Regions from separate parts of the Homo sapiens genome. Here region 1 is linked to region 2. A link means that fine-mapping ties the variant in region 2 to the expression of a gene that starts in the linked region. Tissue or cell type: macrophages. Region 2 holds a variant in brackets; the other region holds the start of a gene. All regions are shown on one strand. Distances are between the middles of the regions.

Region 1 (4,518 bases), 24 kb after region 2:
AGTTCATGAATAACAAGTATGGGGCTATTATTTCTGTGGTTGTGGTGTTATAATTTATAATTTGACTCCTGCTCTGGAAATACTATTATTTTGAAGTCTACATAGGAGGCTTTATGAAATCAAATTCCAATGACTGAAAAAGTTTCATCAATCAGTTAACAATTTTTTAAGAAATCAGTAAACATTTATTTAGTACCTACTATGTGTATGCCACTGGGTTAGGCACTTTAAGGATGAAAGTATTTTCTGAGCCCCCAACACAAGACAATGGTCTGCCAATACAGAAGAATGGTTGAAGTAAGTACTTAAAAACTCAGGGACCTAACGGCACTGCGATAGCACAAGAGCAAGCTGCTGCTGCACTGGGGAGGCTTACAAGACACCTAGGTGAATTTTAGGACACCCAATCCACCACAAAAAAAGCCTGTAAGACACAAAGGCCCCTCACTATAAAAGGGCTACTTTGGTAATCTGAAATTATCACATTAGTCTGCAAAATGTTAGATTTGGACTGAAAACTTGAAAGCTGTTAAAGTTTCCATATGCACCTGTGTAACACTTTTTTAAAGCCAAGTAGGCTTAACACACAGCTTAACACTGATATTAAGAGCACCTTGAGTTAGTAAGCCTAAACCATCAGAGGTTTCTTTAAAGAATCTATAGGAGAAGGAATTCAATTTCTGATAATCAGAACAAAGTTGAATTTTCACTTAGGGTATGGGAATGGTGGGGAAATCAACTGTTATGCAACACTGAAAAAGACTTTCCCCTTTCGTACAGAAAAAGTATCATGACGACTGCTAGAAATGTAAGACAGAAAGTACATCAAACTATATCCCTCAAACTTCGGAGGTTCAGCAGTTCTCAGCAAGCAAGGAAAAATCAAACAAATTTTGCAAATTACTCTTTCAAAAACTGGTCGTGATGAGAGGGATGACAGCCAACAATCTGCAGCCATGCACGAATTTTGTTGTTGTTGTCTTTTACTGGTTTAACAAAACATAAACCAACGCATGAGTTCCAGCTTTAAATTCTGAAATGAGAGAACTGGAAAGCTGCTGCTGTGTGCCTTAATGATCACGTTTTTCTTTTTCCTTTTTAACTTTCCTTTAGAAAACCTCAACAAAGACTAAGCCCAGAAACTTTGACAAAACATAAGCCAAGGCAACATGCGCTGGAGAAGACACGCAATGTAAAAAAACAAAAAACCCCAGTCACAAAATGTCCCAGTAAGTCGGCTTAATAAAAGATTAACTTTGTTCTGCTGAATGCTTCAAAAATCGCGTTTCACAGTATTTTCTAATTACATATGCTTTAAATACAGTATGTATGCTAATAAACGTGGACCTCAAATACATGTGCAATGAAGCAAAGCTGATGTTCCAGATTACATTCTAGCAGTCCCGAAGAAAATGGTAACCTGCAACTGCATGTGCAAAGCTGACAGAGGGAAAAGAGTGGTGAGGCCAGTCGCCCTTCCCTTTCTACCACAGGAAAAGAACAAAGTTCACACTGATTTAACATTGCAGGGGCGCGCCAGAATATCCTGGGGGTTTCCCTCAAACACCCGCTCTTGGAGAGGAAATTGATGCAAGCGCCTCAGTCAACTTCACATCGGGCCCCGCCGCTCCGGGAGTCGGATGTGTCCAAAAAACCGACGCCGCGACACAGGCGGCGTCCTAATCGCAACCCTAGGAAATCAGGGTCGCGGGACCTGGGTCGGTCCTTCTCTGAACGCTGCCCCGGCAAGGCGGGAGACTGGCGTCAATCAGAACCATCCAAAGCGGGACAAGAGGGCACCGAGGCCGGGTGGGGGGGACCCCGCCCGGCCCCTGCGGGAAAGTTGCTTACTGGCCGGGCCCGAGTTTCGCGGCGGCCCCAGAGTGCCCGGCGCCCCTTACCTTCTTGCCGCTGCCGTCGCGAAGCTCCGACTCCAAGAGGCCGGCGCCGCGGGTCCGGGGCAAGGCGGCCGTCTTCTGGCCCTGCGGGAGGCGCGGCCCGCCGGACGACAGCGGCGGTGCCGCGGGGCTAGGCGCGTCCTCGGCCACCAGGCGCTCGGAAATGTGGATGCTCGGGGCACAGCCCATGCTGGCGGCGGCGCCGCGGACACGCTGGCGGGTAGCCGCGATCCGGTCAGCAAACGGCCCACCCGGCGCCTCCGGGCCGCCGCGGGCGCCGTGTCATCGCCGCCTGGGCGGGCGGCGGCGAGCGCGGATCTCGCGTCAGGAAACGCGGCCGCCCCTTTTATCGCGGTGCGGGCGCTGCGGCGGCGGCGGCTGCGGTGGGAAGGGGGCGCTTAGGCGGGTGGCGTGCCGAGGCCGCCCCTCCGAACATGCCCTTCCTGAGGCAGGAGCCGACGGCCGCCTCTCACATCGCCGGGCTCGCCTCGGCCGCGCTTCCGGGGAAATAGGGGGAGGAGATTTGCGCTCTCCTTACCCAGGAGCGGCTGAGTCCACGCCGCGCGAGCCACGCTGCCCTCGCCGAGCTGCGGCACGACCCCCGGGGGAGGCGAGCTCCCGGCCGCGCCCGGCCCCGCTCCCGCCGCCGCCGCCGCCGCCTCCCCGGCTCCAGACTCCGCCTAGATGTGGACACCCACGCCGCTCCGCCCGCTGGGCCGCCGCCTCGCGGAAAAGCCCCCCCAGGCCGAGTGCCGGTGGGGTACAAGGCTAGCCTTAGACGCTCCCGCTGGCCGGGGTTTAGGCGCGGGGTCCGAGGGAAACCCCTCGGAGCGGCCGGGCCACGTCCGCCAGGGTAGGGAGGGGAGCAGCTCGGCTCCAGCGGGGCCTGGGGCCGCACCGTCGAGAAGCGCAGAAACGGCTGCGCGCACCCAGGAGTTGCTGGCGGTACGGCTCCGGCTCCGGCTCCGTGATCCGGGCCGGGTTTTGCCGGCAGCGTGCCGCGCCGAGCCCCCAGCGGTGACCTCCAGCGGGTGCTGGCGTCAATGCAAAGCAGCTGGGGCGCCCGCCACCTCCTCCGGACGCCGCCCGCAACTGAGCATGCGCGGCGACGACAGGCGGGGCGCCCGACTGGGCTACCCAGAGAAGGAAAGAGACTTGCCCAGGGACACACAGCCACCTCCGTCCCGAGGCCACCAGAAGCCCGACCGCCAAATTCGAATTCCGGCTCCGTAACTTAGCGGCTACTTGACCTCGGTGGGGTCACCAAGTGTGAGCCCTGGAGCTGTTACCCAGAAAAGAGGCCGGTGGAAAGACCTCCTTTGGGGGTAGTGAAAGTCAAACTGGGGCGCCGCGCGCCGGGTCCCGGGTGGGTGGGGCCTGGGCGTCCGCGAGAAGCCGCAGCCCACGTGCGCTCCCTCGCAGGCCAAAACCTGGCGCGCCACGCCTCGGATTACACAGGCGCCGGGGCGGCCGCAAAGCTACAGCACCGGGCAGGCTGCAGGCGCCCGTCCTCCTCTCATTTTAACCAAAGTGCTAGTCGGGCGTCCGAGACCCCAAAGGCAGAGCCAGGGGAAGGGGCGTACGCATTGCAGGCCTGGGGCCCATGAGGACCCCGGACACGCACACAGCCACTAGCTTGCTGTGTGAACTGGGCCAGTCACTTAACTTCTTGGTGGCTGGGGCTCCTCCCCCACCAGCTGGAGGGCGGTGTCTCTGGGCGTCCATCACGTATCCTGTAGCGGGCTGCCTCGGACCCCCGCCAGTCTTCCCGCCCTCCCTGGGCTCCCGGTTTGCGGAGACCCTGGCGCGGTGCAGCCGGCTCCTTCCTGTCCTCTCCGACCGTCCACACCTTTCCTAGCGCGGCCCTGGAGCGACCCTGAGAGGCAGCCGCTCCCGCCTTGGCCCGGCTACTGCAAAGACCCGGAGGCGTGCTGCGGGCTGGATTCCCTGCTGTCGCGCTGGGACTGCAGCACAGGTTCAGGTGCCGGGTCCCCGGAGCCTCGATCTCTGGCCCGAGCAGGGTAACCCGAGAGCACGTTACTGGCGAAACTGCCCCGAACCACTGGCACGTGGCTCTATTACCAAGTTTAAGCCCATTAAGCAATATTAATATTTATGCTTCTCTGCCTTATAAAAGTACTACTGGCTTGGTGAAGATGTCTTAAAAAACAAAGGAAAAGATTTTTAAACATCACTCTTTATTCCGCCTAAATCGTATAATTTTTTTCTGCCTTTGCTCTGCAATTTTAAGAGGTCTTTTTTCCAGGTAGAATCTGGAGCTCTTGTAAATAAAGGATACTTCATGGAGAAAATGCTTGGAACCAACAGAGTTCATGGAAGTTTAAAGCGCGACCTCTCCTCCCCGCCCTGCAGAGAAGTACGGCCTTGACGACTCCCGGCGCTGACCTTGCCGCTTCTGGGGCTCCAAGCAGCTCTAGTCCTCTCGGCCCTCCCCTCCTAGGCAGGACCTCGGCGTCCCGCCTCCCTTGTTGGTCCTTGGGCCATGCACTAAATGAAGGAGTTGGGGACTAGGGCTGGGGGATCAGCTGGCCTGAAAAGCCCCGTGTGCACCGCCCCACACCTTGCTGACTGCCCGGACTGCCTTGTGCTGTCCTGAGCT
Region 2 (4,000 bases):
AAGCAAATATAATTAACCCATATTTCACCATCACAACATTGCAAAGTTCCCTGGCTTCTGATCCCTCCCTGAGCCACTGACTATGCAGGCACAGACACTGTAGGGAAAGTCCTGGAATAGGACTTTCTGCAAAGGCCACAGCTGCCCAGACCACTCCCTATTAGAGGGAGCCAGCTTCTGACTCTCCCACTGTCACTCCTAGATACCCTGAGGCTCATAACACACAGCAATGCCACCCCTGCCACCTTCTCTTGACCTCTAAGTCACTCACATACATTAAGGACCTCAGTGCTTCAAGCTCACTCCAAGTACTACCATCACCCTGGGCAAGGTCAAGGTTCATATGGCAACACAACCACCTCACCCTTCCCTTTAATTCTGACTATGAGCTGCAGTCCAACCCCACTCCACTACAGGCACCACTGTATGGCCATACTTAGGAATGTCATTTGGCAGAATGTCCAAGAGCTCTCTCTGACCACAAATTTCCAATTCATCAGTTCTCCCTCATACATATTCGCATTTATAATAATTATTTAAAAAATAATAATACGCAACACTCTGGGAGTATTTACTATGTACTCAACACTATTGGGAGACTCATTTAATCCTCCCAGCACTCCTGTGATGTACGTATTATTCTCATTTTATATGACTTGAAATCTGAGGCACAAACAGGTTAAGTAATTTGCCCAAGGTCTCACAGCTATAAAGTTGCAGAGCTGAGATCTGAAAACAATGTGGTGGGGCACCGAAGTATGTGCTCTCTTTCATTATTTTTTACATTTTATTGAACATACACAGAAAGTACATATAGCGTAACTGTACTAATAGATTTATTTTTGCAAACTGAACGTACCTGTATAACCAGCACCCAGATCAAGAAGCAACATTACCGGCATACTAGAAGCCGCCCTGTGTCCCCTCCCAGTACCACTGTGCTGAATTCTAACAGCACAGATCTGTTTTGCCTGCTTTTGTGCTACTGTGGCTGGCTGCTTCTTCAGTCTTCACTTACCACCACCACCCATGCTGAATCGTGTTGAGAAGCTCCACCTATTAGGCACTGCTCTAAGCATATAATCATTTGGCCCCTTTAACTGACACTGCCTGGCCCTATATCATCTGTTCTCCTAGTCCCCCTCTAATGCTTTTCCCTTCTATCAAACCCAAACCCACATCCCACACTTTTGCTCTCTCATCAGTAGCTACTGGACATTCTGCGAAATGCAAAACTCCAATTCCAGATCAATCTAACTGTCTATCTTTCACCCATGTACAGAAGAATGGCCAAACACTGCTGAAGATCACACAGCTTGCAGAATGGTAATTAAATGCACAATGTCCCACCACAGCTGGACACCAAGTGCTGCCGAAGGTGCTTTCTCCATGTCCCCAACCACTCCTCCTCTCCTCTTCGTAGGGACTAGTCCAAATTCCAAATATTCCCTCTTCTCAAGTACATGTCAAAAGTCTCTAATGCCAGAAGGGACATCATATACATGCCCTAATCTCATCCTCCCACTCGCAATACAGTAGCCTAATTCCCTCCTATTTCAGTGAGCAATCCTAAAAATGTTTACCAGGGGTAAGTTTAAAAGGCAAACCAGGGAAAAAAAAAAAGTTATTCACCACACATGACAAAAAGATTAACATTCTTAACTTTTAAAAAATCTACACAAGAAGAAAAACTCTATTTCTCCAATAGGAAAACAGCCAAAGTAATAGACAATATAAAAAAAATTACAAATGGTTGATAAACATATGGACAAAGACTGATATCCGTTTCAAATCAACTTAATGCAAATAAAATTGGCCAAGATTAAAAATGGGTAATACCACATTCTTCCAGGTAGACTAAATGTTAATTCCCAAATCAAACTAACTGAGTGCCTGGACCATGTACTTTAGCCCCACCTGGAATCTGTGTATGGCATCCTGCCCTCAGCTTGCACTGAGAGACATTCACCACCACATTTATGATGGCAACATTGTTCAGAACCTTGTCCCTCTGAAAGGACCCATGAGAATACTTTCTTTTATTATTATTATTATAATAATAATACTTTAAGTTTTAGGGTACATGTGCACAATGTGCCGGTTAGTTACATATGTATACATGTGCCATGCTGGTGTGCTGCACCCATTAACTCGTCATTTAGCATTAGGTATGTCTCCTAATGCTATCCCTCCCCCCACCTCACAACAGTCCCCAGAGTGTGATGTTCCCCTTCCTGAGAGAATAATTTCTTTAGGTCTGAGCTCAGAAACTGTACTTCTCCTGAGTCATTTGCCATTTTTAAATCTCCAGAATTCTG[C/G]AACTGTTTTCGTATTTGGTGAGGCTGTGGAAGCTCAGAGCCGAACGTGTGACCCAGCCCCATGGCAATCATGCATGCCCCTGTGGCATGTGTTTCCACATACTGACCTCACTCCTGACTTAATTGGTCAGTTCTCGCCATGTTCCCTTGGCCCAATTTCCTTTTTTTTTTAAACTTATTATATGTATTTTTTAAGTTACTTAAACTCTTTTTGAAACAAAACGAGAGAGGGCAGTCCTAATGCTGAGGTTGTCCCCACTCTCCTGTCCTCCATATTCTGAGAGGAATGAATCAGATTGGACTTTCACAGTTTTCATTTGTCACCACAGGTGTATAAGGTGTCTGTGTCCTGGGCTAATGAATTCTGATTGTGCAAATTAGCTTCTTAAGCAATAGTCCCTAAATACTTGGTGATTTCTAATTGCCTTACTAAATACCATATAATTCTCTCAAAATGTTCTTTTAGGAACACCAGGGGGCATATTTTTCAAGACGGAGGTGCTATAAAATCAACAAATTTGACAAGCTATTCAAATTCTAAAATGGCCTGGAATATTTAACTCAAAATATTAAAAGTTCCTGTAATAACAGCTGGGCACAGTGGCACATACTTGTAATCCCAACACTTTGGGAGGCCAAGGCAGGAAGATTGCTTGAGTCCGGGAGTTCAAGACCAGCCTGGGCAATATAGTGAGAACCTTTCTCTACAAAAAAATTAAAACATTAGCCAGATGTGGTGGTGCATGGCAGCAGTCCCAGCTACTCAGGGGGCTGAGGTGAGAGGATCATTTGAGCCCAGGAGCTCAAGCTGTGATCATGCCACTATACTCCAGTCTGGGTGACACAGCAAGACCCTGTTTCAAAACAAAAAACAAAAAAAAGTCCTATAGTAATATAGAGATAATACCCAGCTATAAAACAAATGCATACTGCAATGTGTAAGATAAATGTATTCTATATACTTCCTAGATGAAAAGACAAACTTTAGAAAAGTCACTAAAACAAAACAGGAAAAAAAATCATATGGACTATGTTGAGTCCATATGATTCCATTATGGTGGAAGAGAAATAAAATGTCATAATGTATTCTTCAAAGAAACTATGTATCATTCAATCCAGAGAGAAAACATTGTCTAAAGGTAAAAAAAAAAAAAAAAGAATATTAAAAAATGTAATTATCCCCACTCTAATTCCAGAGAATGGGGAAGTGAAACTAAGATACATCCATTCAGACCCAACTTGGTTGTGTTCAAGTATTCAAAGAAACATCATAGAACTGACAGCAATGAACGGAAGCAGAACTTAGAGATTCAGATTGTATCCTTTCTCTCTCCCTATTCCTCTTCCATTTCATTGGTTGTATCAGCCAGGATGCTTGTGGTTGCAAGTCAAGAAAATTAATCTTAAAGTATTAGGCGATAGAGTGGATTTACTGCCTCATGCTAACGCAGAGTCCAGGGTCAGCTCTTGCGAGCTTCAGGAAAGGTTTGGTAGGACTTCACAATACGGGTTTGCAATTCTCTAAGCCTATTCTCACCCAGGAGTTGGCTTTGTCCTCACTGTGGGGGGCTGTGAGGGAGGTGGGAGGAACATCTTCCCCCAACCACTCCATAGTCTGATTGGGACAGTTTCTATGACATGCCTGCCCCTGAATTAGTAACTGGGACCAGATGAATTCCATG

Direction of the effects. Positions count from the first base shown, and alleles are read on the strand shown. Sizes are in standard deviations (SD) of each study's normalised expression.
In carriers of allele G in region 2, the expression in macrophages of the gene that starts at base 2,394 in region 1 tends to be lower than with C alone (moderate effect, 0.59 SD a copy in Nedelec 2016).

The links.
Region 1: PDE8A starts here. The variant in region 2 is fine-mapped to the expression of PDE8A in macrophages (Nedelec 2016, PIP 0.95).

What each region holds. Positions count from the first base shown.
Region 1 is chr15:84,979,732-84,984,249 of GRCh38, reverse strand. PDE8A (phosphodiesterase 8A) reads right to left here and starts at 2,394. Exons shown (of 22, transcript NM_002605.3): 1 at 1,902-2,394. The coding sequence starts at 2,087. RefSeq lists enhancers at 2,213-2,745, 3,895-4,394, 4,395-4,518 and silencers at 2,473-2,962, 3,283-3,332, 3,893-3,942.
Region 2 is chr15:85,004,323-85,008,322 of GRCh38, reverse strand. The region is part of intron 1 of PDE8A (phosphodiesterase 8A); the gene reads right to left. Among named protein-coding and RNA genes, the nearest start is that of PDE8A, 24 kb to the right of the region's middle. The variant C/G (reference allele first, on the strand shown) is at 2,319.